Linked DNA regions of Homo sapiens. The protein of the gene in region 6 interacts with the protein of the main gene of each other region in a biochemical or structural test. Each region holds a gene or a part of one and is shown on either strand. Other genes may lie near its edges. The genes, in order: SLC5A12, TMEM225B, SSTR2, TMIGD1, SLC6A3, SHANK1 and ARVCF.

Region 1 (4,271 bases), on a different chromosome or scaffold from region 6:
TATAGTTGGCTGTACCTGTAAAGAGAAGAATCCTTTGGTAAAATAAATAATGATTCTTTGTTATATCTAGTTTTTAAAAATATTATGAGTTTATATTATTTTCTGTTGTGAATATGCCTAATTTCTCTATGTTAATACCTGAAAGTTAGGAAATGTGTCTTTTTAATCATTTTTCCCCACAAGACCAAGAACAATGCTTTGTGCTTACTAAACGTTTATCGCTTATTAAACAAAGTAATGCCTCGAGAAGGCCATGCTTGTGTGTATGTATATACACAGGGACACACACAAGTATGGATGGGCATATATATATGTGAGTGTGTATGTGTATACACTTATATACGTATATATAATATATATGTAAATGAAACTTAAGGCTAACTAATCAGAAGCCACCAATGAACTTATTGTTATCTAGTTAGGAAATTTCCAACAAGAAAGGCCAAGTAATAAAATTATATAGCTGTAATCAATCAATATGTGTACACACATACACACACATTTCTGTATATAAATCTTAAAACCTGATTTAGTAAAGTAGTTTAATTCAAGAAAAATGAACACAATCCCATTCCTATAGTTGCCTGGAACTTGGAATTTGTTGTACTAGTATTTAGTGAGTATGAAAGCTGTCAGAAAAGGAGGCATACTCATGAAGACAGAAATGTACATAATTTCCTAACAAATGTACATAATTTTCTAATATTCAGGACTGCCATTCCTGGTTCCACTCATGCCAACTCCCATGAAGGGATTAGGACTGTGATAGTAATTTTGTGAGAATAATGAAAGATGAAAAAATAAAAATTCTCTTTAGAAAAGGGTTCCCTGAGAGAATCTAAGGTGATAGGGTTAATAAAATTCAGGAGAGAGAAATCAGTTCAGATGTTTGGTATAGTTGCAGTGCACAGAGCTGGAGGGGAGATTGCTGTAGTGAGAAAATGGTGAGGGGGGTCCCATCTGTCACACAGCTGGAGCCTTGAGGGCACTCAGGGGCATCTGGAAGCCACTCAGAGCCAGCTGCTGACTGACTGTCACTTAGGAGGCTCTGAAGATGTTGATGAGATGTTCTGCTTTTGTTCCATTATCTGAGAGCCTAATGTAATTAAGACATTCCATGCGGCTTAGAAAAATCTCTGGTACTTGAGGAAAATAAATCCTGCAAAATAGGTAAGTAAAAATAGATCCATAAAGTTCACACTAAAAGTGGGCATGGGTTAGAATCAGGAGTGGCTCATATACATGCATTTGGTTTCATGACCAGAAATGTGATTAGTCACCAAAGACAACTTAATCTAAAGCCAAATCTTCCTTGCACCTAGAAATAGTATCACTTACTGAGACACTTACATGTGCTTCCTGGAAGCTAACTGTGTTTCTAATCCCTTGTTTATCTTTCAGGTCTGCTGGTAGCAAATGGTGCTATGAGGGTAGAAGGAGTTGATGCAGGGTATCACGTCCCATCTCCCAGTTACGATGAGCACATCTACACACAGTTGCATTTCCATTTCCACTTCCTTAGTTTATTTTCCCCATATCTCTATCAGATCTAAAATTATCTGATTTATTTATTTATTTATTTATTTATTTTCAGTGTTCATTACCTGCTTCTAATCCCAAAATGTAATCTCCATGAGGTTGTCTTCTGCATTGCTTCCTGCTATAGCTACAATACCTAGAAGAGGGCCTGGTACAGAGAGTTGCCCAATAAATACTTTCTGAATGGATCAATGAAAAAGCCTATTTTACAAACAGAAGAATTAGCCCTGTATAGAACCCAAGTCCATTTTAAATGAGAAACGAATTCAAAATACAATGACTTTAATATTCTATTTCCACTGGTTTCTCATTTCACATAGTTGACTGATGAACTTATAAGATTGTTCTGGATAATGTATGACTGTCCTCTGTATGGCTATATAACCTCCACATATTTTTACAGAGTATAACTCATTAAATCCTCATAATCCTATAATAAAAAGTAAGGCAGTTATGTTACATTCTTTTTACAGATGATATAACTGACTCAGAGTGTTATGTGATTTGTCTAAAGTCACACAGTTGTTAAGGATAAAGACTTTTAACTCCAGGTCCAATGGTATATTTTAAAAAGAAACAGTGTAAAAAATGCAGTTATGTAGTAAAGAATTTCTACCATTAATTTCTTCAATCATTTCATTATTTCTTACCAAAAAAATAATTTTATATTTGCTATATGCTGGAACTGTTCAGTGCTCTGGGAACACAAAACAATAATACATGAATAAATATAGAATTTCAGATCATAAATACTATAGTGACATAAATAATTATAAGGAGTAGAAACTGACAAGAGAGCAGGAAGTGACTGTTACAAATAAGGATGAGCAGGAAAGTCTCTCTAGCCAGCCAGAGCAAAGGCTTGAATAGAGTTGGCCTGAAGGTTGGAGACAGCAAGAGTACAACTAATGCAATTATCGGTATTGCTCATTTTATGTAGCAATTGTATTCCCAAAGCCCACCAAGAAAAACAAACAAACACATAAAAATCATTGCATTGGCAAAATACTTTCAAGGAAGTAGACTTTGAGATAAAAACTTCTTCTAAACTGTGAGGTGAAAACTCCTCTAAATGGGATAATTATCTGGCGTATTTGCCTTATAAATGTGGACTTTGATTTAAGGGTCTTCTGAAAATCAAGTACACCTGTACGGTATAGGTTTTAGAGGATTTTGAAATAAACGTGTGTCTTTACATTTAAATATGATTCCCTTCAAACAATGACTAGATCTTAGACAATGTTCAGCGTTGCTCTCTTGGCCTCCTGCGGCCATCTCCACAGTGAGGTTGTTTATTCTCTCAGGCCAAGGTAAGGCCAGCCTACTTTCATGTCCTCTCTGGAATTGAGGAAATTAGTAAAATTTTTACTTTCAAAGGACAGTAATGAATACAACATAACCGTAGGATACTACAAAAACACCCAGACTGGAATTAGGCATATCTGTGGGTTTTAAAATAAAATGAATTGCACCACATAGTATGGGTAAGATGATCCTAAGTTTTTTGTACTTTCTGTTGTCTTTTTAAAAAACCAACTCTAACTTTTATCTGCATTAATCTCCAAAGTGAATATTTCCAACACTTATCTATTTCTGTGTTAGCTCATTATCTCTCTGGAAAAAGATGTTAAAAATGTAAGTTGCCTTTTTGACAGTTTTATGAATTGAGTAGGGGGAAAATCACTTGAAGTTATATAATATGAGTGATTGGTATGTGAAATTTCATCCAAGAGAATAGATCTCATACCACACATATCAAGGTTTTGCAAAAACTCTTGATTTCAAAGGAAAATTCACTTAAAATCTTACTTTATTTAAATTTGGTAGTGAGTCTAAAAATGTAATGTTCTCAAGCAAAAAAAAAATAGCAAAAGTATAAAGTGTAGTGATTCTTAAAGGCTATAGAATTTTATTTTACTAGCAAAAAGACCCAAAACCCTTTACCTTGAGTACCTGGTAATGACCTCACCACAGTATGATATGGTATACAGGCTACCAATAGGCCCATGTGCTCTTTTCTAGTGCCTTGTATTTTAACTTGCTGGGTCTCTGGATCATTCTGGTGTGTGCTGTCTTCTCTGGCTTAATCATGTACTCTCACTTTAAAGACTGTGACCCTTGGACTTCTGGCATCATCTCAGCACCAGACCAGGTATGGGTTTTCTTGAGGACAGTGGCGAGTGTCTGGAATGAGCGTGCTTCTAGCTATTGGTGGATAATCTTGGCCTTTCTCTTTTTCTTCCTGGACTGCTCACTATTTCTCAAACCCCAAGAAGTTGGTTTCTTTCTTCTCTTGGGTGATATCAGCACCTACCAGGTTCTAATACAGGGGAATGAGCATGTAAAAAAGAGGGCACCTTGGCCAGGCACGGTGGATCACACCTGTAATCCCAGCACTTTGGGAGGCCGAGGCGGGCAGATCACCTGAGCTCAGGAGTTCGAGACCAGTCTGGCCAACACGGCAAAATATCGTCTCTACTAAAAGTACAAAAATTAGCCAGGCAAGGTGGCGGGCACCTGTAATCCCAGCTACTCAAGAGGCTGAGGCAGGAGAATTGCTTGAACCTAGGAGGCAGAGGTTGCAGTGAGCCAAGATCGTGCCACTGCACTCCAGCCTGGGCGACAAGAGTGAGACTCCGTCTCAAAAAAAAAAAAAAAAAAAAAAGACGGCATCTCACCTTGTTCTTAAAGACAAGGTCTGGCAGCATAGCAAGGCTGGAGAGAGTGGAATG
Region 2 (4,822 bases), on a different chromosome or scaffold from region 6:
GACATTCTCTAGTTTCTCTTCTTCCCACTTGAAAAATTGAATTATTCCCTTCTTTCCTTATTATATTTTGTTTTTAGATACAGGGTCTCACTCTGTCACCCAGGCTAAACCTCCTGGGCACAAGTGATCCTCCCACCTCAGCCTCCTGAGTAGCTGGGACTACAGGTGCGTGCCACCACGCCCAGCTAATTTTTTAATTTTTTGTAGAGACAGGGGTCTAACTATGTTGCCCAGGGTGTCTTAAACTCCTGAGCTTAAGTGATCTTCCTGCCTTGGCCTCCCAAAGAGTTGGGATTACAGGCTTGAACCACCACACCCAGCCCTTCCCTCTCTTTAAATGTCCCCTTTCCATCTCCCATCCACTCTCCAGGTCATACAAGTCACCCCAACCTCAGGGCTTCCACTTCCTTCTATCTAAAATGATGAAGTCTGTTGGACCAGAGGGCATTGAGGCATCCTTCTAGTATTAGAACTCAATGGGAAGGAGTCATGGCTGCATCTTGATCCTGTCCTCTGTATAGATGGGAGTACACTGGGCATTCTCATTTGATAGGGGGCACCTCTTCCTGTCTACCCCATCTCCACCTGTATGTGACTAGAAGTGATCTCTGTCTCCTTTATTTTCTACCTTTTTTTCTCTCCTTCACCCAAACCCTAGCCTTGAGCTCATGCTGGTTCTTCCCTCTCCCCAACCCCACTTCCATCTCATCAGCCTTCCTCATCTTCTCAGTTTTCCCTTCATAAAGTTCCCCAACCTTCCAACCTTCCTGTCCCCACGCCTGCCACGTCTCCCTCCACACCTGGAACATCACCGTCATCCCCAGGCTCCTCTGGCCTCTGTACCTGGTGATTTGGTTTGGCTGTGTCCCCACCCAAATCTCACCTTGCATTGTAATAATCCCCATGTGTCAAGAGCAGGGCCAGGTGGAGATAATTGAATCACGGGGGCAGTTTCCCCCATACGGTTCTCGTGGTAGTGAATAAGTCTCACAAGATCTGATGGTTTTATAAGTGGAAGTTCCCCTGCTCAAGCTCTCTCCTGCCAGCCACCATGAAAGATGTGACTCTGCTCTTCATTCGCCTTCAGCCATGATTGTGAGGCCTCTGCAGCCATGTGGTGCGAGTCAATTAAACCTATTTCCTTTATAAGTTACCCAGTCTTGGGTATGTCTTTATTAGCAGCATGAGAACAGACTAATACACCTGGGTTCCTTCCTGGGGGCGGGGGTGCCTGTTCTGCTCCCCAGATTTTCCAAACCCCACTCCCCTGAAAAGTGCAGCTTGGTGCTGTCCACTCCACGCAGCCCTCCCAGCCACTCCCTCAGCAAAAATTCACTGTGCACTTACAGGTCGCCCCACTCCCAATGTAGGCCAATGGTGGGGATTCAGAGATGAAAAAAGGCAGGAACTCAGAGGCTCTTGGAACTGCTAGGGAGAGAGACACAGAAACACATCATGTGATGCAGTGCTTTTGTCTTCACAGCCCGGGGTTACTTTGGGGCCAGGTATACCCCAGGGCACTACCCCTTATCTGTCCCATTCCCACTGCCCCCTCCACTCTCCAGTGATGAGGACCTTGTCCTCCTTTCCCTGGGCACCAGTCCAGGTCCCTCCCTGAAGCAGCCCTTAGTGCCAGCACTGGACAAGGTTACATCTTCGGATACACAACTTCAGATCCGCACGGATATAGGCCAGACTGAAAGGTCATAGATATTTGAATATAAGAGGGGATTGGTAGATCCTTTTGTACAGAAGCAGAGATGGAGAGCTGGAGAGAGGGAATGACTGGTGGAGGATTCCACAGCCCATCAGTGCTGGCACAGGGACCAGAATACTGCATCACTGCCAGGACAGTCTCACCAGCCACCAATGGCCGGCAGTTCAATTCAGTGATTCCCAAATCTGGAATTCTGTGGATCCAGAGAATGCTTTCTTATAGGCATGTGCATGTGTGAGAAAGAGAGAGAGAATGGGGGAATATACGACTGCCAACTTTTTATTTTGCCAAGAGCATTAAAAACAAAGCAACTTATCTACTGTCACTGGTTTGGTTTTTATTCAAATTTTTGTTGTTGTTCTTTTTTGAGACAGGGTCTTGTGTCACCCAGGCTGGAGTGCAGTGGTGCATTCATGCCTCCTGGGCACAAGCGATCCTCCTGCCTCAGCCTCCCGAGTAGCTGGGACTACAGGTGTATGCCATTACACCTGGCTAATTTTTTTTTTGAGATGGGGTCTTGCTATGTTGCCCAGGCAACCCCTGGGCTCAAGTGATCCTCCCACCTTTACCTCCCAAAGTGCTGAAATTACAGGCATGAGGCCCCACGTCTGGCCAAATTATTATTTTTTAAAGGACCCATGGGCCGGGTGCGGTGGCTCACGCCTGTAATCCCAGCACTTTGGGAGGCCGAGGCAGGTGGATCACGAGATCAGGAGATCGAGACCATCCTAGCTAACACGGTGAAACCCCGTCTCTACTAAAAATACAAAAAAAAAAAAAAAAAAAAAAATTAGCCAGGCGTGGTGGGGGCGCCTGTAGTCCCAGCTACTCAGGAGGCTGAGGCAGGAGAATGGCGTGAACCCGGGAGGCGGAGCTTGCAGTGAGGCGAGATCGTGCCACTGCACTCCAGCCTGGGCGACACAGCCACAGCGAGACTCCGTCTCAAAAAACAGAAAGGACCCATAACACCAGGAGGTAAGAAAAGCTGTGTACCCCGTGGTGGTGCCTGGACCAGCGTCTGAGGACCACTGGCTTGGCAGGAGGTTCCTGGACCCTAGGCCCCCTTCAGCGCCTGAGCTGCAGCCCCGCACCTCCCAGGCCCTGGCACTTAACAGGAAAGTCGGCAGCTGCTCTGGGGATGAAGGAAGTGGGCGACCTGAAGGGCATCCTGGTTTGGAATGGGAAAGAGACCTTCCCTTCCCACTGTTTCCTCCGGTCATTTGTGGCAACTTGGACTGCACATTGACCCAGGGTAGGGTCAGAGGTTCCTTCCCGTTGACAACCGTCCTCGGCCCTTTCCCCTGAATGCCAGGACTCCGCCCTTCTGTGGCCCCAAAGCCATAGGGATATTTTCAAGACCCCAAGCTGGGCCCTAACCAGGCCATCCGCCCCCAGCCCCTGCCCCGGGCGTCCCACAGCCAGTTAGGCGATGTTCGGCCTTGGGTGGGTAGGGGGACTTCCCCACATCCTCTCCCAACCTGTGGGGCCACCTTGCTCTCCCCCATACTGGTCTCCCCTCTACCCTTCCCTCCACCTGCGGCACCGTCGTAGGCGGTTTCGCGTCCCAGAGCTGGGCTGCCCTCCAGGCGGGTCACGGTGGGACCCTCGCCCTCCACTCCAGGCTCCACCGCGCTCCTGGAGCTTCCGTTGGCCCCAGAGGCCCCGGCGGGGGGTTGCCCCGACCCGGGGGAGGAGCCCACTGAGCCTGGGCCTCTGAGCGGAGCTCCAGCTCCAGCTCTGCGGAGGAGACGCGGGCTCACCTCCCTACCTGCCGCCCCGGCCACCGCAAACCTGGCGGGTGGAGGGTGGGGAAACCAGGCCCTGGCGTCTGCCCACAGTACCGGCTTCGCTCACGGGTGTGTGGGGGCGGAGGAACAGAGAGCGGGAGGGATCTGAATTCAAATCCTAGCTCTGCCATTACCAGCGTGGGGACTTTGAATAAATTTCCTGTGTCTCCTTCCTGGGTCCTGGGCTTCTAATCTGTAAAATGGGAATAATAATAGTATTAATAATATGGTGTTAATAGTATTAACACTATTATATTAATGATATACTATTAACACTATTATATTAGTAATATAGTGTTGAGTGTTAACACTTATATTAATAATATAGCGTTAATAGCATTAACACTATTGTATTAATAATATAGGGTTACTATTAACACTGCTATATTAATAATACATGATTAACACTATTAATCATATAATAGTGTTAACACTATAATATTAACAATATAATATAGTGTTAACACTATTATAGTGTTAACACATATTATATTAATAACACTATTATATTAATAATAATTGTTAATAATATAGTGTTAACAGTATTATAATTATATTAATAATTAATAACACTCGTATATTAATATTATAATTAATAATAATAAAGTGTTAATAGTATTAACACTATTATATTAATGATAATAGTGTTAACACTATTAATAATGTAATAGTATCTACACTATAATAATAATATAGTGTTTCATAATATAGTGTTAGGCCGGGCGCGGTGGCTCACGCCTGTAATCCCAGTCCTTTGGGAGGCCAAGGCAGGCGGATCACGAGGTCAGAAGATCGAGACCATCCTGTCTAACACGGTGAAACCCCGTCTCTACTAAAAAATACAAAAAATTAGCCGGGCGTGGTGGGGGCGCCTGTAGTCCCAGTTACTCGGGAGACTGAGGCAGGAGAATGGTGTGAACCTGGGAGGCGGAGCTTGCAGTGAGCAGAGATGGCACCACTGCACTCCAGCCTGGGCGACAGAGCAAGACTCTGTCTCAAATAATAATAATAATATAGTGTTAACACTATTATATTAATAATATAGTGCTAACACCATTATATTAATAATATAGTGTTAATAGTATTAACATTATTATATTAATAATATAGTGTTAACACATATTAGTAATGTAGTGTTAACACTATCATATTAAAAATATAGTGTTAGTAGTATTAACTCTCATATTAATAACAGTGTTAACACTATTATATTACTAATATAGTGTCAATAGTATTAACATTATTATATTAATAGTAGCACACTGTGATATTACTAATATCTGTAATGTTAATGATATTCAGTGTTAGCACACTGTGG
Region 3 (4,271 bases), on a different chromosome or scaffold from region 6:
GGAATGTTCCCAGAAATTCACATATTAAAAGCAAAACAAGCACTTAGGTAAAGGTTTACTCTGACAGAACATTTGATGGGAAATTTGGTGTTTTTGAATTTGGCAAAAATGTGGGATGAGACAAGTGATTGATTGTTGTTACTATAAGTTCCACTGCTTGGCTTGCCAGCTATTGGGATTCTTAGAATGATAAGCATTTTGGAAACACTAATCAGATCTTCCCAACCATCTATGGAAACTTTTGATAATTCTCTTGCCACCTTTCTTTCTTTCTTTCTATTTTGACTGTTTAAAGAATTTTTATTAAAGCAAGAATTTTACAATCCAAATTACGTTTCCCTGCTCAGTTATCAATTCTGTTACTTAAAACAGAACTGATATTTTGAGCTGTTCTACAGTAAAGAATTACAAAATTAAAGAAAGGAATGCTTTAAATTTTTGTACTTTGCTGAAAATTCTTTTCCCCAGGGTCTATAAAACACTAATTTGTTTTTATATTTTACTATTTTTATGGGTTTTTGTTGTTGTTGTTTTTAAATCAACAGGTAACCTAAGACAAGCATTAATTTGCTAGACCTTCAGCCACTCTTCTTTAGCAAGGCCAAAGGTCATGTGTGCCTTACACTGTAACTTTACTGTCTTCATTGAATAGTCACATTCAGAGCTGATCAGGAATATGAATCTTTTTTTCTTTTCTTTTCTTTTCTTTTTTTTTTTTAAGGGCAGGGTCTCACCATATTGCCTAGGCTAGTCTCAAAATCCTGGGCTCAAGCGATTCCCCAGCCTCGGCCTCCCAAAGTGCTGAGATCACAGGTGTGAGCCACCATCCCCAGCCCGGAACATGCATTTTAACAGTCCATTGCTTCCTACCTGTCTCTGTGATCAGCCTGTGCACTTTTCCAGCACGGTGCTCCTCATCTAGGGCAGCTGGGGCTGCGAGTTTTGGCAAGAAACACTTGTATTCCATCATGGAGAGAAGGTTAAATTTGTGTAAGCAAATAGACTCCAGTTCACTGCCAGGTCTAGAAGCCTCATCCACTGGCCCGCGTGTTCCTCTCTGCATGCCATTTTATTCTCCAGTGTCCCTCTGCCATGCTATGTATGAACCCCACTTAAGTTTCTTTTTCTTCTTCCTTTTTTTTTTTTTTTTGAGATGGAGTCTTGTGCTGTCACCCAGGCTGAAGTGCAGTGGCGCGATCTTGGCTCACTGCAACCTTCGCCTCCCGGGTTCAAGCGATTCTCCTGTCTCAGCCTCCTGAGTAGCTGGGATTACAGGCACACGCCACCACACCCAGCTAATTTTTGTATTCTTAGTAGAGACAGGGTTTCCCCATGTTGGCCAGGCTGGTCTTGAACTCCTGACCTCAGGTAATCCACCCGCCTCAGCCTCCCAAAGTGCTGGGATTACAGGCATGAGCCACCGTGCCCAGCCCTGCTAAAGCTTCATCTACACGTCCAGTATTACCCAACTCTGTTACTGAAACACAAGCTAACATCATTCAACATAGGCCACAATATCATATTATTTTTCCCAATATCTTTTTCACTGAGTCCACTTAGGTTTAATCAGCACTTAACTACCCATGCTAATGGCGGGTAAGTAGCAGCTTGCATAACCCAAGTGATCAGATACTCTGAAATCAATGGGGTGCATTACTTTTTATTCCCTCCCAGCACCCAGCAGATTTGTCTTCATCATTAAATATGGAATGGAGACTAAAATTTTTGAATTAAAATGATGTTAACCTTTAAATTAGCATGTTGATTCTCTCTTTTAGATAAAAGAGAACCAGAGAGCAAGTTATCTTTGAAACAGATACTTCAAAAAGTAGAGAATAGCTTTCCCTATGGTAGAAACCTAACTGTGTATTTGGATGGAATTATAGCATCAGATTTAAAGGCCTGTCTTTTAGCCTTAGAATGGTCATCCTGCTGATGAAGACCCACAGATGCCTGGGTCTGCGTTTCATTTTCAGGTTACAGGTGGCTGCTTTGGACTCTGGCCTCCCTACAGGCAGTTTCTCTGGTTGCAGGGTCATGGGTACTATAGAATTAGTCTTTGTTTTTTTTTTTTGAGATGAAGTTTCGCTCTTGTTGCCCAGGCTGGAGTGCAATGGCACGATCTCAGCTCACCGCAATCTCCACCTCCTGGGTTCAAGCCATTCTCCTGTCTCAGCCTCCCAAGTAGCTGGGATTACAGGCGCCCGCCACCATGCCTGGGTAATTTTTTGTATTTTTAGTAGAGACAGGGTTTCACCATGTTGGCCAGGCTGGTCTTGAACTCTTGACCTCAGGCAATCCACCCACCTCAGCCTCCCAAAGTGTGGGATTACAGGCATAAGCCACCACGCCCGGCCTGTAGAATTAGTCTTCTCTGCCTTGAAATTATTTCTACCAATTCTTGGTCCCTTGGAATCATTTCCCTAAAACTCAGCATTTATTCAAGGACCCTGGAACATCTTATGTTATAATAATTGTAAAGTTAGGTCTAAAGCATTTTCTTCCAAATCTTTGCTTGTTTTTGTTTAAAAAAAAAAATCACACTTCGCTAAACATGGCTGCTAGGAAGCCCTGAGCTGAACTTACAGTTGACCTTACTTTTACTAATGGTGTGGGATTTTCCTGCATGCAATTTCTGCCACAACTTTTTCTGTAGTCTTGTTTTATAACTATACCTCTTTTTATTTTTGTATGGATTTATCTATCCAAAATCTTATTGAACATATTTTTCTGAGCCACAGGAAGTACTTTTGGGAGTGAGGTGGTGTGAATTTATACAGAACAAAAGCAGCACATTAAGAAGGACACCCACAGGTGGAGCACTTAGTCACTCCCACCGGCCAACAGCGCTTGCTTAGGGAGCCGGATGAGGAAAGCTCATTTAAAAATATGGTAACATCTATGTGTGAGATGCTGAGTGATGCTCTCAGATGAAACCCAAAGATGATGACATCCTTGCAGACACCCAGGTGTGTATTTCTTCATACTCTAGAAAATGATCAGTCAATGAAATGGATATTGTCTCTTTTCTTATCGCTTGTAAATGTCAGTTTGGGGAACGAAAAAAATGCCACTTTATGGTGTGAAGTGCCTGTCTACAATAGTCCTTGCAGAGCGGCTCAGTGAGTCCATGGCATTAAAGATATGACAGTTACTATGTATACAGTCAGTGAGGAAGGCAGCACAGCAGTATCTCCGAGAGGTGGGGCCCCACCAACACTCACACCACACCCCCTGCACGCTGCATATTCATTGGCAGGTGAGGGTGCTTTTGTTTTGTGAACAATGTCTTCTGGTCTTTAGTACGCATTGTGGTTTTCCTTTTTTTTTTTTTTTTTTTTTTTTTTTTTTTTTTTTGAGACTGAGTTTTGCTCTTGTTGCTCAGGCTAGAGTGCAGTGGCACAATCTCAGCTTACTGCAACCTCCACCTCCCAAGTTCAAGTGATTCTCCTGCCTCAGCCTCCCGAGCAGCTAGGATTACAGGCACGTGACACCACGCCCGACTAATTTACATATTTTTAGTAGTGATGGGGTTTCACCATGTTGGCCAGGCTGGTCTCGAACTCCTGACCTCGGGTGATCCACCCACCTCGGCCTCCCAAAGTGCTGGGATTACAGGTGTAAGCCACCACGCCCGGCCATGCATTGTGGTTTTCTTAATGCCCAGCTTTGTATGAAGTCCTCTAAAGTCCCCTTTGAGGAGTCGTCGAATTACATTTCCATTTTCTTTCATTAGGAAGCTATGTCTGGCCTGAAAAATAAAAACAATTTTATGGTTTCTCATAAAGGTGTAATTTTGCTTCACTCTTATTCACTTATTTTCACGATGGAGAGAATGAAATTGTTTCCCCACAGGAATCATAGTCCATTTTTTGCCTTTCATGTTAGTGATTTTTCCCCCTCATAGCTCCCTAAGAAAAACTAAAGCAATTTGAAAAGAAAAAAATGCAATCTTATAACAAAGTTGGCTTTGTCTTGATAAATACAATGATGGATGACCACAACCACTTAAGTCCTTTTGGGCAAATGAATAATTCTCTGACTATATCTGAGAAGTGGAAACACATGAATTTACATTCTGGTTCTTCAAATATCTTCTCCCTTTCCCTTCTTACATTGACCTCACTTGCCTGAAATTAATGAAGCAAATCCCCAAGGGCAGAGGCTAGAAGGTTTGTGAGGCTTGAAGCTTATACGAGGTTCCTCTTTAAGAAAAACAATACAAACATATCTTACTTTCACAATTTTTTACAAAAACATATGACCACATG
Region 4 (4,271 bases), on a different chromosome or scaffold from region 6:
TGATGCTCATAGCAATAAGAAAAAAATTCAAAACAAAACCCATACTCTCTGACAACATGCCTTTGTTCTTATTACCTACTACCCACTTCACATATGCTAGAAGCGCTAAACAAAGCTGCAAAGAGAAGGCAGTATGGGGATGAATGTGGTTCCTGGCCTTGTTGTAAAGCAGTATGGACCAGTGACTTCCTCCAGAGCATTTGCATTGTGTGGCAATAAAATGCAGTTGCACAAACATTGGGCAAACTCACTTAAAGAGGGAGCAGGCTTAGGACTAAAGGTGTTCTCTATTCTAGGCAACTTTTCAACCTGTCTTCCTCTAAAGTGGAGGCAGATTTTCCTCCACCTTCTATTCTCCTTTGAACCCCTTCCCCTTCCAGCACCTCCCATCTCTGGAGTTTGTCTAGAGTGATGCATATCACTGCTATTCATCTGCTTATTTAAAAAGCACTGGTCCCGGCCTAGAGTACTTACAGAGCTGTTTCACTGTGAGGGTCTTTATCCTTCATGCAGAGCTAAAAGCAAACATGGCAGTAAATTAGCCTGCTTTTTAAGGCCCATGGAGAAATATTTTGAATGCATTAAGATGGCTCGAGGACAGGTGTGTGTCCTGTGCACACCTCTGCACTGGCTCAGGCGTCATTTTTGGGGCCACACTAGTAGTTTTTATTAAACTCAAAGAAGATGTAACTCTTAGTTAAGATGCTTCCAGTGTCTTAGATACTTGAGTATTTACTTTTTTATAGAAAAAAAAATGCGGCCGAGTGCAGTGGCTCACACCTGTAATCCCAGAACTTTGGGAGGCCAAGGCAGATGGATCATTTGAGGTCAGGATTTCAAGACCAGCCTGGCCAACATGGTGAAACCCTGTCTCTACTAAAAATACAAAAAAACAGCCAGGCATGGTGCCACATGCCTGTAGTCCCAGTTACTCTGGAGGCTGAGGCAGGAGAATGGTGTGAACCTGGGAGGTGGAGCTTGCAGTGAGCTGAGATCACGCCACTGCACTCCAGCCAGGGTGACAGAGCAAGAATCCATCTCAAAAAAAAAAAAGAAAAAAATGCTTTGTGGCTGGGTGTGGTGGCTCATGCCTGTAATCCTAGTGCTTTGGGAGGCTGAGGCAGGCAGATCACTTGAGCTCAGGAGTTCGAGACCAGCCTGGGCAACATGGCAAAACCCTGTCTACAAAAAATACAGAAATTAGCCGGGCACGGTGGTGCATGCCTGTGGTCCCAGCTACTAGGGAGGCTGAGGTGGGAGGATCACTTGAGCCCAGGAGGTTGAGGCTACAGTGAGCTGTGATCAAGGCACTGCACTCCAGCCTGGGAGAGAGAGTAAAACTCTATCTCAAAAAAATAAAAAAAGAAAGAAAGGAAGACAGAAAGAAAGAAAGAAAAGAAACAACAACAACTAAAATATGCTTGGGATTGGAATAGGGGGTGGAGTGAATTTCTTCTTGAGAGACATGGCTGCCCTGTTGCTATGTGTTCCAAGGAGAATGCCCCTTGCTGAATGATGAACTCAGCCTAGGGCTTTCTGCCTTTTTTGCTCTCCTTTGGCACTGAATTAGCTGGCAGAGTCAAATGCATGGCATTAACCTAAGCATGCACGTATTCTGAATCATACCAACCAACGAGGATAACCACTTTATAATTCAAACACCAGTCCACTACAGCCAGGGCATGTGGCTATAGTCCAGAAGTGAGCAGCCAATGCCATCTTTTCCATGCAGATCTCTGAATCTAGAGCGGATGTTCCTCCCTATATTTATTTATTATACCACAGGTATCATAGCAACAATAAAGGGCAATTTAAAAGGAGGAAAATCAGCCCCCAATTGCCTACCCCTGGCAACACAGCTATTTTCAATTCAGGCTTTGCCCATGTGCACTTCTCTTCTTTGTAAATCTGTACTCATAATGTACATATAATTTTTATTCCCTTGAGCAACTGTATTTTAGATCTCATGGTATAAAGACCAGATTTGACTTTGCCAAGAAGGGTTCCTAACTGAAGTCACTTATATTTCTAGCTTTCTGCCTTTATTCAGATGATGGCTTTTTACTTAAATAGCTCAGAATACTTAGATACCTTCATTATTTTCTTTCTTCTAGCAATCAGTCCAAAGCACAATGTCAGAAAGATCACAACACATGCAGCAATAATGGGCTCTATTGGTACACCCACAGTTTTATCTGTAGGAAATGCAAACACAGGGAATAAGAATGAACATTTATATACTTCCAATACGTCCCAGCAATGGTGCCTTGAACTTTATGTGTGTCATCCCCTTAATTAAACCTTCTCAACAATCTCAAAAAGTAGGTATGATTGTCCTCATTTCACAGGTGAGGAACCAGGAGGTTTGAGGGGTTAGAGTGCTTGTTCAAAGTCATAGAATTAGGCCGGGTGCAGTGGCTCATGCCTGGAATCCCAGCACTTTGGAAGGTTGAGGCGGGCAGATCACTTGACGTCAGGAGTTCAAGACCAGCCTGGCCCACATGGTGAAACCCCATCTGTAAAAAAAAAAGAAAAAAAAAAAAATATATATATATATATAGCTGGGCATGGTGGCAAGTGCCTGTAGTCCCAGCTACTTGGGAGACTGAGGCAGGAGAATTGCTTGGTCCCAGGAGACAGAGGTTGCAGTGAGCCAGGGTCGCGCTACTGCACTCCAGTCTGGGTGACAGAGCAAGACTCTCTCTGTCTCCAAAAAAAAAAAAAAAAAAAAAAGTCACAGAACTGGTAAATGGTAGAGGCAGGTTTTGAATCAATTCCTTTGTGGAATAATAATTTATTGTAATATGAGTAACTCCCCTAAAACAAGTAGACCATTTTGTGCTTCCTTCACCCACAGTTTTTGCCACACACAGAGCAGAAGTAGATTGAAGTCAACGATTTTGCCTGGATTTTGAAAAGTCCAAAATATATTGGGAAGTATCCTGGGGTGGGTGAGGGAAGAGAGGGAGGAAGGCTTTGAGAGCAAGAAGAGAAAGGGTGGAGAGCTTTCTGGACTAAGAAGGAGAGAGAGGTCTGTGGGCCTCAAAAGCAGTGGGGAGCCTTGTACCTGTACTGCAATGGTGCCCCAAGCAGGTGACAAGACATTATAGAAGGTAGGTGGCTGCATAGTGTCTCTAGGGAAGTAGGACTCTAAGCATGAGCCTTCCCAACCTTGGCAAAGTTTTCTGCATCTCTCTAAATGCCATGCAAAGAGAGAGAGCCTACTTCTAACTTGGACTAGGAAGAGATCAGCAGCAACCATGACAGCTTGGAAGTGAAAGCCTACCCCTTTATTTTCTAAACACCAGGTCAACTGAGAGCTATTTTTTTTTTTTTGAGACGGAGTTTTGCTCCTGTTGCCCAGGCTGGAGTACGGTGGTGCAATCTCGGCTCACTGCAATCTCTGCCTCCCAGGTTCAAGTAATTCTCCTGCCTCAGCCTCCCGAGTAGCTGCAATTACAGGCACGTGCTACCATACCGAGATAATTTTTGTATTTTTAGTAGAGACGGGGTTTCACTGTGTTAGCCAGGATGGTCTCAATCTCCTGACCTTGTGATCCGCCTTCCTTGGCCTCCCTAAGTGCTTGGATTACAGGTATGAGCCACCGCACCGGGCCAAGAGCTACTTTATTTATCAGTCACTATAGGCATAGTGCCTGTGTTTGCAAGCTTTCTAAGAGCCTTTGAAAATATTTGAGACCCAGAAAAAAATGATTGGCCCCAAGATATGAAAAGAAAGTAGCAAAATTAATCAAAATTAATCAATGTTTAAGCATCTGTAAAATGCAACCTGGCATCAACTCTAACCGAACTGTTAAATAATAATGTTTAAACCTCAAGAACCAAATGAGTAACTTATTTATAACAAAATTCAAAATCTATACAAGTTATAAAAATTCTTTCAAAAATTTTATAGCAGAAAGCACATACAATGTGCTTTGCTTTAATATCTTTGATATGATATGGAATGAAACTCTCAAAAGTAAAAGTGAAAGCCAGGCAGCGTGGCATATCCGTAGTCCCAGACACTTGGGAGGCTGGGGCAGGAGGATTGCTTAAGCCCAGGAGTTCAGGGCTATAGCACCCTATGATTGCACCTATCAATAGCCACTGCTCTCTACCCTAGGCAACATAGTGAGACCCTTTTTTTCTTTTTTAAGACAGAATCTCGCTCTGCCGCCCAGGCTGGAGTGCAGTGGCTTGATCTCGGCTCACTGCAACCTCTGTCTCCTGGGTTCAAGCGATTCTCCTGTCTCAGCCTCCCAAGTAGC
Region 5 (4,271 bases), on a different chromosome or scaffold from region 6:
TGAGGCTACATGATGGTGGCGCCCTGACAACCCTCAGAACAGCATGGATCATCCACATGCTGCATGATGGCAGCACCCTGATAACCCTCAGAAAGGCATGGACCCATCCACATGCTACATGATGATGGTGTCCTGATTGGACGCACACCAGCAATGCCTGCTTTGTATCCTTCCCAAAACATGAGCAGTACAGGTGCACAGTGGCACCTGGGCATGGCCAGGAGCCCACCTGCAGCTTAGACACTGGTGCTGTGCCTGCCCAACTCGGTGGATGGCACCCACAACTCTGGACGTGAAAGGAAAGGTGGGTGGGTCCACGATTGGACCATTGTGGTATTTTAAAAAGTCAGCCACAACCTGCTAAGGTGAGGGCACTGCGGAGACCATTCAGTGACTCAGATGCCCACCTTGCCCTTCCCTGGGCCTTGGATGGGGGAGAAGGAGCAGCCAACCCCCCCTTGGAGGCATTTGAGGGACTGGTCAGTTAGGGCTGTTCCTGCAAGTCCCTGGAGCCCATGGTACAGGCCTGTGGGCCAGGATGCTGAGGCAGAGACACCAGATGCTCCTGCTGGGGAGGCCAGGTGGGTCTCAGGGCATCCCAGGTCCCAGGTCAAGCTTGCCTGAGCTTGACTGAGCAAGGGAACTGGGTGCTGCAGAGGGGGCGGGGCCCTCTGTCCTTTGGGCAGCATGTCAGAGCCTCAAGGCAACCCCAGTTCCTGGGACAGTGTGTTTGGAGGCAGATGGCCAGGCCCCGCAGTCAGGACTCTGCAGGTGGCCAGTGTTTCAGCATGAGGGGAGGAGCCAAGCCGAGAGTGGCTGGGTGGGCAGTGGGTGGAGAGGCTCATACCCTGATGTGGCTCCCATGCTGGTCATCAGCCACCTGCCTGGCCAGGTAGCTGCAGGCTGGATCAGGTGTCACAGGGGAGCGCCTGCCTCCTCCTCACCCTGATCTGTGTGTGCAGCTCAGGCCTCTGCCCAGTGCCACACCAGAGCCAGTGCCCATGGCTGCCTCCCTGGGCCTCACCTCATGCACTTTCACTCCAGGACCTGCAATTGTCCTTTCCTTCCATTTCTTTCCTGATTTCTCTTCACTATACATCAATCCATCATCTATTATCTATCAATCAATCATCTATCTATCTATCATCTATCACTGTCATCTATCAATCCATCACCAATCTATCATCTATCTGTCATCTCTATAATCTATCAACTGTCTATCATCTATGAATATATGAAGTACATGTGTGTGTATGTATCTATCTCCATCCATCCTATTGTATATCCATCCTATCTACCTACCTATCATCCATCCATCCACCCATCCATCATCCATCCATCCACCCATCCATCATCGATCCATCCATCCATGCTATCCAGCTACCTATCATTCATCCATCCACCCATCTGTCCATCATCCACCAATCCACCCATCATCCATCCATCCATCCATCCACCCACCCATCCATCATCCATCCATCCATCCATGCTGTCCAGCTACCTACCTATCATTCATCCATCCACCCAAACATCCATCATCCAGCAATCCACCCATCATCCATCCACCCACCCGTCATCCATCCATTATCCATCCATCCATCCATCCTATCTAGCTACCTACCTATCATTCATCCACCCATTCACCCATCCATCATCCATTCATCATCCATCCATCCATCCATCCATGCTATCCAGCTACCTACCTATCATTCATCCATCCACCCAGCCATCCATCATCCAGCAATCCACCCATCATCCATCCACCCATCCATCCCATCCATCATCCATCCATTATCCATCTGTCCATCCTATCTAGCTACCTATCATTCATCCACCCATTCACCCATGCATCATCCATTCATCCATCCATCCATCCATCCATCATCCATCCATCCATACTATCCAGCTACCTACCTATCATCCATTCCTCCATCCACCCATCCATTATCCATACATCCAGCCAGCCAGCCTTCCATCCACCCATCCTATCTATCCATTCTATCTACCCACCTATCATCCATCCATCCTATCCACCTACTTACCTAGCATTCATCCATCCATCCATCCATCCATCCATCCATCCATCCATCCATCCAATCTATTCACTGTCTCCACCTAATTTCTGACATCTCATCTTTGTAATTTGTTCTCCAGTGAGCATCTTTTCACATGCACTGGTGTTTGTTTTGCCTCCTCCTGGGGCTGCCTATTCTTCCTAGCTGGAGCACTAGGCTCTACGTTGTCCTTGTGGTATTTTTCTTTGATTCTGTAACATGCCATGGTCCTGCAAACACACCCCTTGGCTTCATTTTGGCCTTTCTGGGGTCCAGACGCCCTGCTGACTTCATGGTTTGTCTGGCTCCAGCTCTGCACTTGTGGGCCCCCGGCCACAGCTGATTTTGCTGCCCTGGTTGTCCTCCTCTCTCTTCCTTGGCTCCCGTGGGCCACACGCCTGCTGCACCCATGGCTCCTGTCTCCACAGGGCTTCCCCTTCAGTGCTGCAGGCACACTTCCACCCCCACCCCCACCCAACTGCTTTGCAGCCTCATAGGTGCCATGTCCAGGTGCCCTCTCTCACTGCACCTGTCAGCTGCTGCCTCCCTGGGGCTTCCTGGGAGGCTTGCAGCCATGCCCGCCCATCCCTTCTCCCCTTCCTTCCCACTTCTGCCTTGGGTTTACACTTGCCTCATGACCCCCAGACCTGGCTCCACCGGCCCACCCACACAGGGCAGCACCTCTCAACGGCCTCCTGCCTCATACCCCAGCTGAGATGGCCCTTCCCCTCTTGCTGCATTGTCCTCCCACAGCAACATGGATGCCCCTGGGCGGCTTTGGGGCCTGCCACCTCCCCCACTTAGTCCACCTGATTTCCAACGATGCCCCAAGGGAGCTGCCATTTTTGTCATGCCAGCCTTCCGCCAACAGCTGCTTCTGTTTCTGGGCCTGTTTGCCAGGAAGGGTGCAGCCCTTTCTCCTCCCTTTCTGGACAAGGGTCCCATCCCCCATGGCCCAGCTGAGTCTCCTCTCTCCGGGAGGCTTTCTCCAAATATTTTAACCCTGAATTATGTCTTCTTTTGCTGACCAAAGCTGCAGCCTGAGTCTAGATGGAGTTTCTGATGTAATTTGATTTAGATGACTCGTGCTGTATCACAGGTACTTGGGATTTGGCTTCCCGAGGAAAGAACCCTGGTGTCTGCAACTCTGACACCTCTCAGCCCTGGCAGGCAATGCATATGGAAACCTGGGAATGCCAGAGCCCCTGTGGACTGTGAAGCAGTGAGCAGACTGTACTCACAGACGCCTCGCAGAGCCGGTAGAAGTCAACGCTCAGGTATGCTCTGATGCCGTCTATGGCTCCAGGGAGGGTGACCCCACGCAGGAGCAGGGCAGTGAGGACCACGTATGGCATGGTGGCTGTGATCCATACCACCTGCAGGAGAGGACAGTGTCACCAGGCTGCACAGGCAGGGCCCTTGGTGGGAGCAGACACTGGCACAAGGGCACCGGGTTGCCCTGACGGCTTGTCCTCTGATTGGGAGGCCCAATTCCCAAACATTTCCTGGGACGCCAGCTCAGCAAATGCTCCTTGGAGTGAGAAGGTCAGACACTTTCTGTCCTGCACACCCTCCCCAGGGATGGAAAGGGAAGAACAACTTGGCAGGGAAAGCACATTCCTTTTCTGCATTCGGTCCGCCAGAGTAGCTGGGAGTGGCTGATGGGGGTTTTCTGATGCGTGGGACGTGAGTGGATTCACACTGGTGAACGGCACTGTGGCACGATGAAGGGCTGCTCTGGGCTGTGTCCCTGCGGGAGGCTCCCGTGGCTGGTGCCATACTACACGCACTTTTCCAAGGGAGGAGTCGTATCTTGGTCAAAACTGGTTTTGGCCCATATAACAACCAAAGTTTTTTTTTTTTTTTTGAGATGGAGTTTTGCTCTTTTTGCCCAGGCTGGAGTGCAGTGGCATGATCTTGGCTCACTGCAACCTCCGCCTCCTGGGTTCAAGCAATTCTCCTGCCTCAGCCTCCCACGTAGCTGGGATTATAGGCACGTGCCACCGTGCCTGGCTAATTTCGTATTTTTAGTAGAGATGGGGTTTCATCATGTTGGCCAGGCTGTTCTTGAACCCCTGACCTCAGGTGATCTGCCCGTCTCAGCCTCCCAAAGTATTTTTATCAACAAAAAAATCATCTTGTGTGTGCCTTCCTGCCAGAAACACTGCTGTGAGTGCTTCCCTCCTGAGGCCCTTCCCCAAACACAGCCACACGTGG
Region 6 (4,271 bases):
TAAACCCTTCTCATTCCTTAAAATACGAAGTGAGCTCCCTGCTATGCCCCCAGATAGAGCCCCTCCACACACACCCTGAAAACAGCCCCCCAGCTACCCTTCCAAACCAGCACTGCACCAGCTCCCCTCCCTCCTCTCTCACATGCAAATACAGCCCCTTCCCCACGTACACAGCCTCAAATGCACTTTCCCAAATAGACAAACCCATACACCCACAAAATACATACACAGCGGCAGCTGCACAGTCTAATTTTAAAATACTCTTCTCCCCCTGCCCCCGCCAGGACACCTGATTGCTCTTCACATGAGGGTCAGGATGGGCTGCCCCCAAAGACAGCCATTGAGAAGCACCCCGACGCACAGCTGCTCCAGCTAAACGGCCCCTCCCTTCTCTCCCTCAGATGCTTTCCTGAAGAGCCCCTAATGCAGTCAGATGCCAGCCACAAAGATCTGCAGTATACCCCTGGAGTTAACAGATCCTCTTCATGTATCTCCCATGCACACTCACCCCCAAACCCACATCCTGCTCACACACGCCCCTCCCAGCCTCCAGACCTGCGCTATCCAAGCCAGTAGCCACTGGCCACCTGGGGCTGTTTAAATTTAAATTAAATAGAATGAAGTAAAATTAAAATTTCAGTTCCTCAGGCTCACTAGCCACGTTCAAGTGCTCAGGGGCCCACACGTGCCTGCCATATAGGGTGGTGCAGTTGCAGACCATCCCCATGATGGGGGAAACGTTCTGTTGGGTGGCACTGCTACAGGCTGTCCTCACACGAGGTTGCTGCCAAGACTTTCTCCTATTAATGTTCATTATTGCCAGCCTTCCACACCCAGAGCTGTCCTTCAAGTGGGGGCAGGAAGTGGCCTCCAGCCCCAGTGAGGCCGGCCCGATCCTTGCCCTTACCCAAGCTTACCTGTCCCCTGGCTTCCTGCTGTGCCCCTTCTTTGAGATCCTGGACCTAATAACACCTCCCACTTGGTCAGAGACCCTCCAGCATCCAGACTCTGTCCTCTCACTTGTCCCCAACAACCCACCTGTAGGAAGTGGAATGGGTGGGTACTGTGGCCCCTAATGTCTTTCAATGGCTCATCCAAGATCGCCCCCAGGGGGAAGGCTGGGTGGGATGTCAGAGTGCAAGTGTCCTCTGGAGGCATCTACCCAAGTCCCACATTGTTCACACGGAATCAGAGTGGCCCAGGGAGGGAAAGGGCCAGGCTCAAGGTTGCACAAGGGCATCACGGCAGAACTGAGACTGTCATTGGCCACTGTAGGTCACCCAGGACGGTCCAGTCCCCCTGGCCCTTCAGAATGAGCTGGTTAATGTGTGACTGTCATCTGTGTTTTTCTACTGGGTTCTCTCTCCGTTCCTAGGCGCTCCTGGACCTTGGGGGTTCCCCCAACTACAAGGACCGTCGGGGGCTGACCCCTCTGTTCCACACGGCCATGGTGGGTGGTGACCCCCGATGCTGCGAGCTGCTCCTGTTCAACAGGGCCCAGCTGGGCATAGCTGATGAGAACGGCTGGCAGGAAATCCACCAGGTGCTCCTGATTCAGGCCATGAAGGGCTGGGGTGGGGGACCCAGTCCCTGAGGCATCCAAGGGGCTGGGGCTGGGAACCAGATGCCAGGGTCCTCACAGAGCATGGGGGTGAGAATAACATGGTCCCCAAAGAGGAAATGGTGGGGGTGAAGGCAGAAAGACCCTAAGGGGGCATAGGCTGGGGAACCTGATGCCTTGACCCCTGAGAGGGATGGGCTGTCCTCTTGACCCCCTTAAGGAGGCAGACCAGACGCCTGGGCCTTGGAATGACTGAACATTTGGGTTTTGAGGCTGACAGCCTGGGTCCCAGAGCAGGAAGCGGGGCTAAAAGGTGATGGGGAGGTGGATGCGGTGAACGATAGGATGAGAAGGCCAGTGCACAGGTCATAGACAGACTCTTGGCCCAGAGGGAGAACAGCCTGGGTCTGATCCATGCCCCTCGCTCCCTGTCCTGCCCAGGCCTGCCAGCGGGGTCACTCTCAGCACCTGGAGCATCTGCTTTTCTACGGGGCTGAGCCTGGAGCCCAGAACGCCTCGGGGAACACGGCTCTGCACATCTGCGCCCTCTACAACAAGGTCTGCCTAGCAGCGGCCACCCCAGGCCCCTCACATCCCCGATAGCCGCCTCCCCCAGGGCCAAGCTCAGACACTCCTCTTGACTGCATCTCTGCACCCTCCACTTCTTCACTATTTCCACCCTTTCATCCAGTCATTCCTCCATTCATTCCTCCATCCATCCATCCATCCATCCATCCATCCATCCAACAGATATTTACTGAGCTCCTCTGTATCAGGCCTGGAGCTGGGTGCTGGGGACAAAGTGTTGAGCTCATGGCCTAGCAGAGGGCAGACAACATAGTTTGCTGCTACAGTCCAGAGTGCTCAGAGCAAAGTCACAGGGAATCCAGATCCCTGCGGGAGCCCACATCTGGGACTGGGCTTGGGATGGAGTGGCTGGGGGTGAAGGTGGCTTCCTGGAGGAGGTGCCCCCAGTGTTAAGATGAGCAGGAGTAGAAAAGAGGAGAAAGGGGTGCTCCAGGGTGGGGGCACAGCCTGTGCAGAAAGCCAGAGGAAAGGGGGCTGTGGGTCCTCAGTTCCCCTGTGTCTGCATTCAGCCAGTGGTGTGTGCAGGTGCCACGTGGCGGCACGGCAGGGCACAGGGGAAAGGCCAACGTGCAGCCCCCGTGGCCCCTGAAGGGAATGACAGTGGGATGGGAGTTTTAGCAATTCAGGACCTTGGGGGTCCTGACAACCTGGGTCCCTGAGCAGGAAGGGAGTGCTGAAGGGAGATGGGAAGAACACCCCCACTTCTGGAGTTCCTAGGAGAGGAGAGGTACGGAGCAGGCAGGGGGGCTCGTGGCAGCTGGTTGGCAAGAGCCGGGTCTTTCAATGTCATGACCTCTGGTACTTTAGCCACCTGAGCTGCAGATGATCCTGGGCAGGTCAGCCCCATGGAAAGCCTCAATCTCCCCACCTGTTTCTTGATGCTTCCTGCCCTTGAAGGGCAGCTGGTGGGGGTACTTAGAGAGACAGGCGCTAGCATGACAGAGCTGGTCTGTCAGCCCCCTTCCTCCAGGAAGTCTTCCAAAACAGCCCTCAGCCCCCTCTGCCTCGGCAGAACTTGCAGTGCTGGGGATTTGGCGGGTGGCCACGTGCCGCCTTGTGGCAGCCAGCAGTATGCCTGGAGCCCAGGGAAGACTCAGTGTTTGTCAAACCGAACCAACATGGTGCCGGCACTTCTCTCCCCACGTGCTCCTGTCTCCTGCTCTGCGACACAGGCCTCACAACCAATCCTCTGACTCCCAGGCCCTCGTGCAGCTGATGGGGAAGAAGCCCTGGCCCCACAGGCAGATGGGGGTGGGGAGCAAACAAGTCCCTCCCCCTCTTTGAGGCTCCATCCTTCTTCCTGAAATGGGAATAACGCCAGCTCTTATTGACGAGGGTGAGCCATCGTGTATACTAAGTGCTCATCCCTGGAAGGCAGCCATCAGAATAATAATTGTCATTGTTACCATCACCAGTGTCAGTCAGGGTCCAGTCGAGAGACAGAAACTGTACCGTTCAGATAAACAGAGAAATTTTGGTATAGAGAATTAGACCAGGCACGGTGGCTCATGCCTGTAATCCCAACACTTTGGGAGGCTAAGGCAGGAGGATGGCTTGAGCCCAGGAGTTCGAGACCAGCCTGGGCAACGTGGGAAAACCTGGTCTCTATGAAAAAATACAAAAATTAGCTGGGCACAGTGGCATGCACCTGAAGTCCCAGCTGCTCGGGCAGCTGAGGCAGAAGGATTGCTTGAGCCTGGGAGGTGGAGGCTGCAGTGAGCTATGATCATGCCACTGCACTCCAGCCTGGGTGACAGAGTGAGACCCTGCCTTAAAAAAAAAAATTAGAATTAGACAGCAGGCAGAGTTTTCTTAGTGGGACAGTTGCACAAGTCATTTTCCCCTCCTTGATCTCCTTTCTCAGCTGTGAAATGGGTCAATAATTAATATCTACCATGCAGGCCGGGCGCAGTGGCTCACGCCTGTAATTCCAGCACTTTGGGAGGCCGAGGCGGGCGGATCACTAGGTCAGGAGATTGAGACCATCCTGGCTAACACGCTGAAATCCCGTCTCTACTAAAAATGCAAAAAAAAGTTAGCCAGGCGTGGTGGCGGGCGCCTGTAGTCCCAGCTACTCGGGAGGCTGAGACAGGAGAATGGCGTGAACCCGGGAGGCGGAGTT
Region 7 (4,271 bases), on a different chromosome or scaffold from region 6:
AATTTCCCACTCGAGCAATGAGAGGCCCCACGTGGCAAGCTTCCATGTCCACTCTGCAGGTGGGACAGCTGCAGCAGCCTGGCCCTGCTCACCCACCCACTGCCTGGGCCTGGCCATACCTTGGTCTCGGTGCGCCGGGTTGTGCCATCTTCGGATGTGACAATAGACACATGGGAAGTGGGTGTGCCGGGGTCCTCCTCCACCGTCACGGTCTCCTCCAGCACATCAGGTGCCTCCGGCATCGTGGCCAGTGAGGCCTGGCTGCCTGGGCTCTGCTCCTGGGGCAAGGAGGGACATTGGTGGGCAGGCCTGCTGCTCAGTCACCCCTGGAGTGCAGGTCTCCACACACAGCAGCTCTGCCTCAGCTCATGCTGGCCAGCACACCAGGGTGCCTTCCTCCTGGTCCTGAACCCACCCACCCCAAGGCCTGTTTCGGCCCAAGCTGACAAGGACAGCAATAAGTTCTTGCCCTCTGAACATCGAGGTGCTAACCCTGCCCCGGCACCCCATCCTGGGGGGACCCTGGGGCTGGACCCCCATCTCAGGTCTCCTCAGGCTGAGTTGGCAGATAAGGACATAGACCCTGGGGGGTGAAGTCTTCAGGGCCCTCCCCAAGCTGCATGGCCTGGCTGCCACAGGCTCCTCCAGGCCCCAGGAGGTGCCAGTGAGACCTGCAGCATGCCTTCCTGATGTCAACCACCACCCCTAGCTGGGACATCATGGTGTCCTGGGGCCTCCTCCCTCACCTGCCCCAGACACCTTGAGTATAGAAGCCTTGTGGGGGCTGTTTCAGCACTGCCTACTGACTCCTGTGGCCACACTAAGGTTCCCGCCACCAACGCCAGCCAGACGCCCTCAAGGGACAGAAATACGCAGTTCCCAGAACACCCCATGCACCTGCAGCACCAGTATGTCCTTATTCCTTCCAGCCCAGACATTCTTGAGTGTTGTGTAGGCACAGGTTTGCCCTACCTCGGGCCAGTGGCTGGCGCCCCCAGTGACTGAGACTCTGGGCATCATATCAGAGACCAGACACAGTAGATTTGAGCCTATGGGTGCCCTTGCCACCATTCTGCATGGGGTGACGACACTGGAATTCTAGGCAAGACAACTCTGGACTGAGACTTTTCTATCCACATGCCTACTGACTGGACTTGCCAGTGGGGAAACTGAGGCTCAAAGAGGATAGGCTGGCCCACATCAGAGCCAGGCCCAACCCCTGCCGCGCTGAGTGGCTTGAGGACCTAAGACTCACAGCCTGCCCCGGGCCTCTGACTGCACAGGTGCCTGGCCCCAGGGCCACATGGCACCAACATCCGGGGATCGGCATCTAGCCAGGATGGGCAGGAGCTGAAACCCAAGCCCTGGTGGGTGGGTCAGGCGGAGCACATTCCCAGGCAGCCAGGGCAGGGTCAGCAGGAGGACAGGTCCTGCTTTGTGGCCCAGGCCCCTGGTCCCTGCACAATGGGTCCCTTGCCTGGGCCCCCTGGGGCCTGCACAGACACTAAGCTCTGCCAGGCTCCAGAGGCAGACTCTGCCCATTCTTGGGCCTGGGAGGTGAGCCAGGTTAGATGCTCAGCGCTGCCCTCAGGACCTGCCTGCCAAGGCTCGTGGGCTGGGAAGCCTCCCCAGGTCAGGGTCCTATCCTGGGGGAATACTTGACCCCCAAATGCATGCAGTGCAGGTGTCCAGGAAGGGGCCTGCACCAACATGTTAGGACAGGTGTATCCCTCAGGCTGACAGAGGAAAGAAGTGGCCACAGAAGGCACCTCCCCCTCTCCCACAGGCAGGGTCTTGGAGGATGACAGATAACTTTATAGATGGGGAAACTGAGGCCTGGCAGGGGGAAGAGGATTTACCTAGAACTTCACAGTCCAAGTGGGATTTCAAGCACCCCCAGAGAAGGCAATCTGGCAAGGAAGGCTTTGGGCCTCATCTCGCCCTCAGTCTTGAGATGTAGGTGGAATGCCTGCTGTGGACCTGGCTAGGAAAAGGGGACCTGTTCCCTGGGAAAAAGAAATAGACTGAGGCCTAGAGTGGGGACAACTGGCACGCTGCCAGGCAGGGCAGGCTGGGCTCTTCTCCAAAGGCACTGGGGAGCTGGGACTGCTCTGAAGCAGGAGAAGGCTTGTGTGGCCCATCACTGCTGGGGCTGGGCTGCCCCATCTGTATCTGGCAAATGTGTGTCAGGCCCTGAGCTCTCTCTGCTGGGCCCTGGGCGGGGCTCATCTGAGTTCAAGCAGGGGCCCAGGCACTGAGGGGCTGCAGTTCTGGCGACAGAGTGAGGAGGGTATAAAGCAAGACTGAGGAAACGTTACCCAGGACTCTGCCAGTGGGATGTAGCCCCTCATATATGTATATATTTACATCTATTAAAAACTCAGAGAAAAACCCCCTCTTCCCTAGCTAGGCAGTGGGGGTAAGCGGGAGAGGAAAAGGGGAGGACATCTCAGGACCCCGATGCCACTCTGTGGCCCAGCTTATCCCTCCCACCAAGGCTGTGGTGAGGGTCTGACAGGCAGAGCTGGGGTGGTCCAGGAGAGCCACGCCCCCGCAGCAAGACCTGGCAACCCTGCGGCACCACCCATCAGCCCCGGCCTAGCAGCCCCGCAGTAGGATCCAGAGGCCCCAAGAGTCCCTGCTGGCAAATGACCTCAGGGAGCTAAAAACGAGGGATGACTTCACCCGGGTGGCAGGTGCATGAGTCAGCCAGTGATCACAGGAAAGCCCGGCCCCTGCTACACATGCCCAGGCACACACACATGCATATACATGACCCCTCAGACAGGGACACATGCATGTACATACACGTGTGCAAGTACCCAGCCCGGCACAGGCCGAGCACATCAACCCGTGTGCTCTAACAGCACCCCAAGGGCACGGCGCCCACTGTTCCCAGAGGCACACTCGTGAGCACACATCCTCCCGTCCTCCACCGTGTATCGGAGACCCTTATCCATGCAGGGCCTCACAGAGTCTCAACACACAGGGACAGGGGCCACCAACTCTGCCAATCATCTGCCCAGCATCCACTCTGGGAGTCTCAGAGCTGGCTGGCAGATGGAGAAACTGAGGTGTAGAGTAGTGAGAGGCCCATAGCCAGCTGGTGGCTCAGCTCTCTGCAACATCTTTAGGGTGGGGCTGTGGAATGGTGGGCTGACTCTCAACAGGAGTTGGCTGCAGTCCCTGGATCCCTGTCTGGCCCCAGTGTCCATGTCTGACGTGCACCTGCCCAGGCTGGCCCACTCTCAGGGACCCTGGCCCTGCAGCCCCACACAGCCTCTGCCTCAGACCCAACTCTGGGCTGCTCCCCTCTGTACCCTAGACATGGGCTCTACCCTGAACACCCCACCTCCAGCCCAATCCCACATGCTGCATCCTGTCAGTCGTCTCTCATCACCCCCTCCCCAGCTGGGGCCCCATCCTTGCTCCTCTTGCACCCCGCCCGGCCTCCCAGCACTCATCCCTCCCTTGGCTCTTCAATCTCTGGTGCACCAGGTCTGGGGCCCCCAGGACTGGCCCAGAAACAGGCTGCTGCCCAGGCCTGGGGTTTCCCATGAGCTCCCTTGGGCTTGTGGGAGGGGCCAGAGTGACCAGGGAGGTAGACCACCTACCCCTGCTCACAAGAGGGTCCCGGGAACACAGGGCTGAGCCCAGCATAGGGGCTCTGGGCCCCATCACGCACCTTCGGCTCAGCTTCTTCACAAGGAGGTGAGAAGGACAGAGGGGGCTGGGGTCGTGGGACGTGCTGGGTAGCATCAGTCTCACTTTTGTGGCAAAATGCAAGGAACACAGGGAGCAGAAAAGCAAGATTGGACCAACACACAGAGGGATGCTGGGGCACAGGTGGCTGGGCCCTGGTCCCATATTACTTATCTACCCAAACCACCGGACTTCACAGATGCACCACGGTCTGTGTCCTGAAGAACAGACTGCAGGGGCAGGCCCCTCCCCTGTCCAAGGCCTGGCTAGCACACACAGAGAATGAGTTAAGGTGAGATTGCACACCTGGATCCCACACCTGCAGGCCAGGCTCCCAGAGGGCAGGAGGTGGCTGCTGTCCGATGGATGAATGAATGAATCTTCTCCATCCCCATTATGGCCCTCCCAGGTAGAGTCCAGGACAAGCCAGGCTGGCATCTCTCACCAGGCAGCAAGCCCTTGGCCACCACAAAATGCCCTTTCCCTTGGTGCCACAGCCTCTGACCAGTCTCCAAGACCTGGAGCTTACTTCTCCACACAGCAGTGCACCTGCCAGGGCGTGGCCCCAG

Evidence for each region.
Region 1: the proteins of SHANK1 (region 6) and SLC5A12 interact in a test that uses a peptide from one of them, tested with the Homo sapiens proteins (one large-scale study listed by IntAct).
Region 2: the proteins of SHANK1 (region 6) and TMEM225B interact in a test that uses a peptide from one of them, tested with the Homo sapiens proteins (one large-scale study listed by IntAct).
Region 3: the proteins of SHANK1 (region 6) and SSTR2 form a complex in vitro, tested with the Homo sapiens proteins (one study listed by BioGRID).
Region 4: the proteins of SHANK1 (region 6) and TMIGD1 interact in a test that uses a peptide from one of them, tested with the Homo sapiens proteins (one large-scale study listed by IntAct).
Region 5: the proteins of SHANK1 (region 6) and SLC6A3 interact in a test that uses a peptide from one of them, tested with the Homo sapiens proteins (one large-scale study listed by IntAct).
Region 7: the proteins of SHANK1 (region 6) and ARVCF interact in a test that uses a peptide from one of them, tested with the Homo sapiens proteins (one large-scale study listed by IntAct).

What each region holds. Positions count from the first base shown.
Region 1 is NC_000011.10:26,697,826-26,702,096, reverse strand, and holds part of SLC5A12 (sodium-coupled monocarboxylate transporter 2), read left to right. Parts: intron 1-3,561; coding exon 3,562-3,691; intron 3,692-4,271. UniProt on the Homo sapiens protein: Acts as an electroneutral and low-affinity sodium (Na(+))-dependent sodium-coupled solute transporter.
Region 2 is NC_000007.14:99,596,811-99,601,632, reverse strand, and holds the start of TMEM225B (transmembrane protein 225B), read right to left. Parts: upstream 3,367-4,822; 5' UTR 3,252-3,366; intron 3,030-3,251; exon of another isoform or gene 2,885-3,029; coding exon of another isoform or gene 2,831-2,884; intron 1,429-2,830; coding exon of another isoform or gene 1,348-1,428; intron 1-1,347.
Region 3 is NC_000017.11:73,171,008-73,175,278, reverse strand, and holds part of SSTR2 (somatostatin receptor type 2), read right to left. Parts: 3' UTR 1-4,271.
Region 4 is NC_000017.11:30,316,719-30,320,989, forward strand, and holds part of TMIGD1 (transmembrane and immunoglobulin domain-containing protein 1 isoform 1 precursor), read right to left. Parts: intron 2,196-4,271; coding exon 2,092-2,195; intron 516-2,091; coding exon 475-515; intron 1-474. UniProt on the Homo sapiens protein: May control cell-cell adhesion, cell migration and proliferation, cell morphology, and protects renal epithelial cells from oxidative cell injury to promote cell survival.
Region 5 is NC_000005.10:1,417,274-1,421,544, forward strand, and holds part of SLC6A3 (sodium-dependent dopamine transporter), read right to left. Parts: intron 3,431-4,271; coding exon 3,296-3,430; intron 1-3,295. UniProt on the Homo sapiens protein: Mediates sodium- and chloride-dependent transport of dopamine. Also mediates sodium- and chloride-dependent transport of norepinephrine (also known as noradrenaline). Regulator of light-dependent retinal hyaloid vessel regression, downstream of OPN5 signaling.
Region 6 is NC_000019.10:50,709,219-50,713,489, reverse strand, and holds part of SHANK1 (SH3 and multiple ankyrin repeat domains protein 1), read left to right. Parts: intron 1-1,375; coding exon 1,376-1,543; intron 1,544-2,002; coding exon 2,003-2,119; intron 2,120-4,271. UniProt on the Homo sapiens protein: Seems to be an adapter protein in the postsynaptic density (PSD) of excitatory synapses that interconnects receptors of the postsynaptic membrane including NMDA-type and metabotropic glutamate receptors via complexes with GKAP/PSD-95 and Homer, respectively, and the actin-based cytoskeleton.
Region 7 is NC_000022.11:19,981,814-19,986,084, forward strand, and holds part of ARVCF (splicing regulator ARVCF), read right to left. Parts: exon of another isoform or gene 1,860-4,271; intron 279-1,859; coding exon 120-278; intron 1-119. UniProt on the Homo sapiens protein: Contributes to the regulation of alternative splicing of pre-mRNAs.